2 separate regions of the Homo sapiens genome follow, and region 2 is reported to be linked to region 1. The links are microRNA targets in miRTarBase. Many come from high-throughput screens and were not tested one by one. Region 1 holds a microRNA gene; the other region holds the end of a gene's coding sequence.
The links. Region 1 holds the annotated microRNA hsa-miR-342-3p (UCUCACACAGAAAUCGCACCCGU, at 2,212-2,234, shown strand). A microRNA usually pairs through its seed, bases 2 to 8, with sites in the 3' UTR of a target mRNA and lowers its output. Matches are read on the target gene's strand: a 7mer-m8 pairs with bases 2 to 8, a 7mer-A1 pairs with bases 2 to 7 and ends in A, and an 8mer does both.

Region 1 (3,536 bases):
GAACCATGGCCACGCCCAACGTTCCTCCACTAGCATTCCCTCATGAAAGATCACTTTTTCCAGGCCAAGGACCAGAAAAGGACCAGGCTTTAGGAAGAGGGCCGAGGTGCATGGAAAGCAGTGCTGGTGAGGAGAGGGTTGAGTAACTGGATTTTGACTGTTTCTTCGCATTTGGTTCTCACTAATGAAATCTTGTCAGACGTGCCCCTGCTGCTGGATTGGGTGGGGGTGGGACAGAAGCATGTGTGGTCAAAGGCAAGTTTATTTGCAGTTTGGGGGTTGAATGCAGTGGATTTCAAACTGGATATTTTGAGGAGTTCCAGGGGTCCACCAAGGTATACCAGGGTCCTCGCCCTGATGCAACCAGAGTAGTTCTTCATCGACTTTATACAGTGGGACTCTGAAGAAAAGAAAAAGGAAAACCCCATAGCTTAGTGGGAATCCGGGCGAATTAAAACACAGGATGAAGTGCTTGTTCTCTTTGGCTCTTGGAGCATAATGTATGTCCTTTTCCTACTTGGTTTGCGTGTAATAACATCATTGGTATATTTCAAAATATGAAGCTCCTGGTGCTGGATAATAAATGTTTTCCCAGTTTTTCAACCTCTTATGTCCTTCATTGATGCCCAGTGGCCCAGGGGCTGCACCTTCAGCACAGTGTTGAGAAAGAGCCCCGGAAAGGGACTTACAGGCAGACCTTCCCGGGAAGAGTCAGGCCCAGCTCCATGTGCTCTTTGGAGGGGAGTGGAAGGTTGTTAAACCTCATAGCTCTTGGAGGTGGGGCTGAATTTTGCTTCTTGTAAACCTCTTTCCATTGGAAATTACCTCTTTCTCCCCTAAAGAGAAGGAAGTACTGGACTGTCTTCATCTCCCTGGCTGCCGAGGCCATTTGACACCTTGTGCCACCTGAGAGAAAGCAGGCCCAGCATGGCCCTGCCTGAGGGGAACAGGACGGCAAGCCCCTGGCCTCCTGCCTGCTCCCAGCTGCCCTCTGGCGGCCACTTTCTGAAAGCCGGATATGTCTCTTTGCTGACCCACCCCTGTTCTCACCCCAGGGCTCCAGATGTTGTATCAGGCAGGGCCTTTGTACGCCTCCATGCCAACAGCTACCCAAGTCGCACCGTCAGTCACACTCTTACTCAGGCTCTCCTGTGCCCCTGGCCCTTCTTCCCCTCTCACTTTTCCCCACACTTCTAAAATCTCACTCGTCCTGTCAGAATGTGGCTCCACAGATGGAGCCTTTCCCAGCCGCCCCGCTCCCTGTGACTTTGCACTCCCTCCTGCACTCCCACGGGGCTTTATTTTTGCCTCTGTCCTAACAGTCAGCTGCCACTTGGCCTGTCCTGCTATTCCCACTGCATGAATCTAGTCAGGTTGGAAATTCAGAAAGTGGCCTCTTTGTCTCTGGACCCCAAAAACCCACACATCGTCTGCCTTATAAGCTCTCAGTATATCCATCCCTGGCTGCAGGAACACACCAGGACCCAGAGGCTGCCGTGCCTGGAGCCCTGTCTCCTGACTCAGCCCAGGCCCCAGCTCAGCATCGAGGTCCTGTGGGACCATGTCCAGCAGTGAAGGCTGTGCATTGGCCTGAGCCCCTGGTCCCTCTGACTCACTGGCTCCCATTTTCACCACCTGCACTGCATATTCTCACCGTCTCTCCCCTGACACTCTCTCCCCTGAAGTGTTGTAATGGGGTTGTAACCCATCCACCTTCTCTTGTCCTTCTTCAGTCTGTCCTCCCTGGGCTGCGTCTAAAGGGGCCCCGCCCCTGCCCTCATGCATGTTCTCTCCATACTCCTGGTCACCTTCTGCTCATCCTTTGCCCTGCTGTTGTGAAGCCTTCCCAGTGCCCCAGAAGACCTCAGGCACCCCTTCCCAGTCCTCGCACACTGTTGGTGTCCCATTTGTTTGGACCCTGGGTTTGTTTGTCTAGACTGTGAGCTCCTCGAGGGCAGGTGTCTGTTTCTGTGTCTCGGGAGCCCTGAAGAGAGACTGACACATCAGAGGTGTCTGGTGACTGAACAAGCTCCCAGCTTGCGCCCATGTCATATTGTGTGCCTCTCATAGCCTGGCACTTCCTGCCATTGCATCCTTCTCTGCAGACTAAGATGGAGTTCCTGAACCAAGACCGCTTGCTGGCCAACCTGTGAAACTGGGCTCAAGGTGAGGGGTGCTATCTGTGATTGAGGGACATGGTTAATGGAATTGTCTCACACAGAAATCGCACCCGTCACCTTGGCCTACTTATCACCACCCCAAACAGAGGAACACGCCTTCTCCAGCCACAGCCTATGGAAGGGCCTTCAGCTGCTGTGGCCCCGAGGTGTGCATACTGTGGAAGGAACTTCGGACGTGAACTCGGATCTGGTTCCAGTACCAGCTGTGCCAGGAGTGTGCCCTTGGGCATGTCACTGACCTAAGACTCAGTTTCGCCATCTGTGAAATGGCTGAATCAGACTCACCTCACAGGGTTGTTGTGAGGGTACCATGAGATGATGTTTGTAAACATTCTTTGTCACCTCTAAATTACTATAACAGTTTGAAGTTACTCTTTTTAAAAAAATTATTTGCAAAGGTAACTAACAATATCAGCCGTGCACAGTGGCTCATGCCTGTAATCCCAGCACTTTAGGAGGTCAGGGGATCACTTCAGTGTGAGAGTTCGAGACCTGCCTGGTCAACATAGCAAGACCCTTGTCTCTACAAAAGCATTAAAAATTAGCTAAGTGTGATGGCGTGTGCCTGTGGTCCCAGCTACTCAGGAGGCTGGGGTAGCAGAATTGCTTGAGCCCTGGAGTCTGAGGCTGCAGTGAGCCATGGTTACACCACTGCACTTCAGCCTGGGCAACAGAGCAAGACGCTGTCTCAGGAAAAAAAAAAAAAGGTAACTAACAATATCAACTCCTGTGTGGTGCCAGCAGCCATCACGTTGGGACACAGAGGGAAGCCAGGCTTCTTGGATCCTGATGGTCAGAGAACACTTTCTGAGGGAAGCGGGGCTTGAACCTGGGCCCTGCAGGGCTGGGGGTGAATGGGGGGATCTGATGAGGAGGAGGACGGCGGCACCAGCAGATCTTGGTGGTTTGGAAGTTCAAATCAAGATCTGAGAAGAGGCTCTGTCTGACCCTGGGGGTCTCCCTCGGCACATTGGTAGTACTGTGCATGCCTCACGGGTGCCCCTAATTTCAGAGCATCCCACCTGCATCCTGCTGCTGCCATTGTCCTCCTCAAAAGAGCTGCTGGCTTATTGCAGTTTACATCCTAGAGAAGAGAGGTCTCCTCCTTCCACCAGTCCCAGGATTATCTCCCTAACGCTAATGGCGAGATTCCTTTGGAGTTTTAGTCTTCTGTAGATACAGCCCAGGCGCCATGTGCCCAGTCAGGGTTTGAGATAGGTGGTGGTTCATTCCCCAGCCTTGCCTCACCAGCACCTTCCTGACGCCTCCTGGTAGGGCTCAGGAAGCAGCCAGCTGAGGTGTGCCTGCCATGGTCAGCACAGTGGTTGACAGAAGTGGCACAGATTGTGGGGGCAG
Region 2 (3,268 bases), not on the chromosome of region 1:
CCCTGCGTTCCCCAACCCATATGTCCCGGTCCTCCACAGATACGTCTACCGCCTCTGCCCCTTCAAGCTTGTCTCGCAGAAACCCAAACTCGGGGGCTCTCCCACCAGCCTTGGGTGAGTGGCTTGGGCTGGCCCCTTCCCTCTGCCTCCTCCTGGTGCCCCGACACCGGCCCAGCCCTCAGCACCCTGTGTCTCTCACAGCACCTGGGGCTCATGGATTGGCCCCGACCACGACAAGTTCAGTGCCATGAAGTATGAGCAAGGCACGGGCTGCTGGCAGGGCCCCAACCGCTCCACCACCGTGAGTGCCTGCAAGGCAGGGGAGCTGGGGCGGGGAGACCCAGGCCTGGCCCAGCCGAACCCTCTCGAGCACCCGTCTGCCCATCCCCAGGTGCGCCTCCTGTGCGGGAAAGAGACCATGGTGACCAGCACCACAGAGCCCAGTCGCTGCGAGTACCTCATGGAGCTGATGACGCCAGCCGCCTGCCCGGAGCCACCGCCTGAAGCACCCACCGAAGACGACCATGACGAGCTCTAGCTGGATGGGCGCAGAGGTGGGCGGGGAGGTGGAGTCTCGTCGGCCTGCCCCAGCAAGGGGAGGCGGCGGGCCCTGAGGAAGATGGACCCACATGGCCACTCTATCAACCTGTGTCCCCATGTTCCCTGCTTTTTTGTTTTGTTTTTTTGAGGTGGAGTCTCACTCTTTGGCCCAGGCTGGAGTGCAGTGATGCGACCTCAGCTGACTGCAACCTCTACCTCCCGGGTTCAAACAATTGTCTTGTCTCAGCCTCCCAAGTAGCTGGGATTACAGGTGTGCACCACCATGCCTGGCTAATTTTTAGTAGAGATGGGGTTTCACCATGTTGGCCTGGATGGTCTCGAACTCCTGACCTCAGATGATCCACCTGCCTTGGCCTCCCAAAGTGCTGGGATTACAGGCATGAGCCACCACACCCGGCCATCTCCTGCCTTTTTTTTTTTGGATGGAGTTTCACTCTTGTTGCCGAGGCTGGAATGTGGAATGCAATGGCGCGATCTCGGCTCACTGCAACCTCCACCTCCTGGGTGCAAGCAATTCTCCTGCCTCAGCCTCCTGAGTAATTGGGACTACAGGCGCCGCCACCACGCCTGGCTAATTTTTTTGTATTTTTAGTAGAGATGGGGTTTCCCTGTGTTAACCAGGTTGGTCTCGATCTCCTGACCTCGTGATCCGCCCTCCTCAGCCTCCCAAAGTGCTGGGATTACAGGCTTGAGCTACCATGTCTGGCCATCCCCTGCTTTTTAAAAAAAGATTTTTTTACTTTTGAAACTAAATAGGCCAGGCGTCGTGGCTCACATCTGTAATCCCAGCACTTTGGGAGGCTGAGGTGGGCGGATCACTTGAGGTCAGGAGGTTGAGACCAGCCTGACCAACATGGTGTAAAACCCCATCTCTACTAAAAATACAAAAAAATTAGCTGGGTGTGGTGGTAGGTGCCTGTAGTTCCAGCTGCTCAAGAGGCTGAAGCACAAGAATCACTTGAACCCAGGAGGTAGAGGTTGGAGTGAGCCAAGATCATGCTACTGCACTCTCCAGCCTGGGCTACAGAGTGAGACTCTCAAAAAAAAAAAATAATAATAATAAGAGAAAATAGACAAGGTCTCCAGGCTGGTCAACTCCTGGCCTCAAATGATCCTCCCACCTCAGCCTCCCAAGCAGCCGGGACTACAGGCAAACATCACCATGTCCAGCTGTCCCCAGCTTTCTAATCTGGTCTTTCTCTTGCCCCAGAACCTCAAGAAGGCATGAAGCCAGCCCCTGCAGTGCCGTCCACCCGCCCCTCTGGGCCTGCCTGTGGCTCTGTTGCCCTCCTCTGTGGCGGCAGGACCTTTGTGGGGCTTCGTGCCCTGCTCTGGGGCCCAGGCGGGGCTGGTCCACATTCCCAGGCCCCAACAGCCTTCAAAGATGGGTAAAGGAGCTTGCCCTCCCTGGGCCCCCCACCTTGGTGACTCGCCCCACCACCCCCAGCCCTGTCCCTGCCACCCCTCCTAGTGGGGACTAGTGAATGACTTGACCTGTGACCTCAATACAATAAATGTGATCCCCCACCCAAACTTGTCTGTGTCTGCCTCGCTTTGCTGGGGTGTGGACCGGGGTGTGGGCAGGGGTTGAGCGCAGGGGACGCAGCTTTCTGCAGATCCCACCCGGGCCTCCCCCACCATCTGGGGATCACTCCTGAAGATACCAGGTGGATGGACCCTGGACCATTTCTGTCTTGAGCATCCATCCGGGCCCGTGTCCCACCTTCCCTGGGTCTCATCTGTGCTCTGTGGAGGCCAAGGGTTCCCTCCCGGGGCCAAAGCCCCTGCTGCAGACAGACCCAGGCCCAGAGAAGGACGGGGGCCTGGGCGCTACTACACAGGCTGCTCCTGCGTGCTCCCCGCGCAGCGGTGCAGAGATCACCCAAGGCCTTAAGATTCTGAACTTTTATTTTCTGGCATGAAAAGTACAAATAATTAAACAATTCCATGTAAAAGTCTGTTACCGCGGCCAGGCCTGTGATCCCGGTAATAAATAGTCTAAACGCAACGCGAAGTGTTCTTGTTGGGTTTTTTTTTTTTTTTTGTCTTTTGTTTTGTCTTTTTTTTTTTTTTTTTTTTTACAGTTTTTTATCACCTCCAACATGGACTCTGTCGTGATTTGAAACCTTCCGAATAAATAACAGGATGAAGGGAGGGGTGGAGGGGCTGAGCCCCCTCCCCCCTGGCCTGGCCCCTGCCCCCCAGGGACGTGGAAGCCCCAAGTCCCCCTCGCCTGGGAGCCCCGGCCTGGCCCCCTGCGGGGAGGGGCTGGCCTCCAGGGAGGGGGCCTGGCTGGGCTGAGTTTTGTGTTTTAGAAAAAGAAGTCCCCTCCCAGTCTTGGGGGTGGCAGGGGCCTAGGCCTCGGTGGGGGGGGGGTGTGTGGGGAGGTGCCCCCTCTCTGGAGCCTGGCCCCCCCCAGGGTGGGGGACAAACCCAGCCCTTATTGCTCGGACGCCCTGCTGCAAGCTTCCCACGCGGACGTGCGTGTTCCCGAATGCAGAGGGCGGAGGGGAGAGAGCCCCAAGAGACAGCAGGGGAGAGGGGTCCCTGCCCTGCTGCAGGGGAGAGGAGAGAGGGCAGGGAGGACTTAAAACCACGAGAATAAATAGGTTCGTGTATCAAGAACAAGCTAGGGATTTCACCAGCTAAATAGGACTGAAAAAATTCTCAAGACAAGAGCAAAAAGAATCCCATTGGTGACCTGGAC

Region 2: miRTarBase lists PRKCSH as a target of hsa-miR-342-3p. The part of its 3' UTR that is shown has no 7-base or 8-base seed match.

The regions. Positions count from the first base shown.
Region 1 is chr14:100,107,504-100,111,039 of GRCh38, forward strand. It overlaps MIR342 (microRNA 342), which reads left to right and starts at 2,152; the gene lies at 2,152-2,250. The region is part of intron 3 of EVL (Enah/Vasp-like); the gene reads left to right. It overlaps MIR151B (microRNA 151b), which reads right to left and starts at 2,011; the gene lies at 1,916-2,011.
Region 2 is chr19:11,448,875-11,452,142 of GRCh38, forward strand. PRKCSH (PRKCSH beta subunit of glucosidase II) reads left to right here. Exons shown (of 18, transcript NM_001289104.2): 15 at 40-114; 16 at 202-301; 17 at 392-554; 18 at 1,772-2,094. The coding sequence ends at 538. It overlaps ELAVL3 (ELAV like RNA binding protein 3), which reads right to left. Exons shown (of 7, transcript NM_001420.4): 7 at 2,452-3,268. Among named protein-coding and RNA genes, the nearest start is that of PRKCSH, 15 kb to the left of the region's middle. RefSeq lists an enhancer at 3,238-3,268.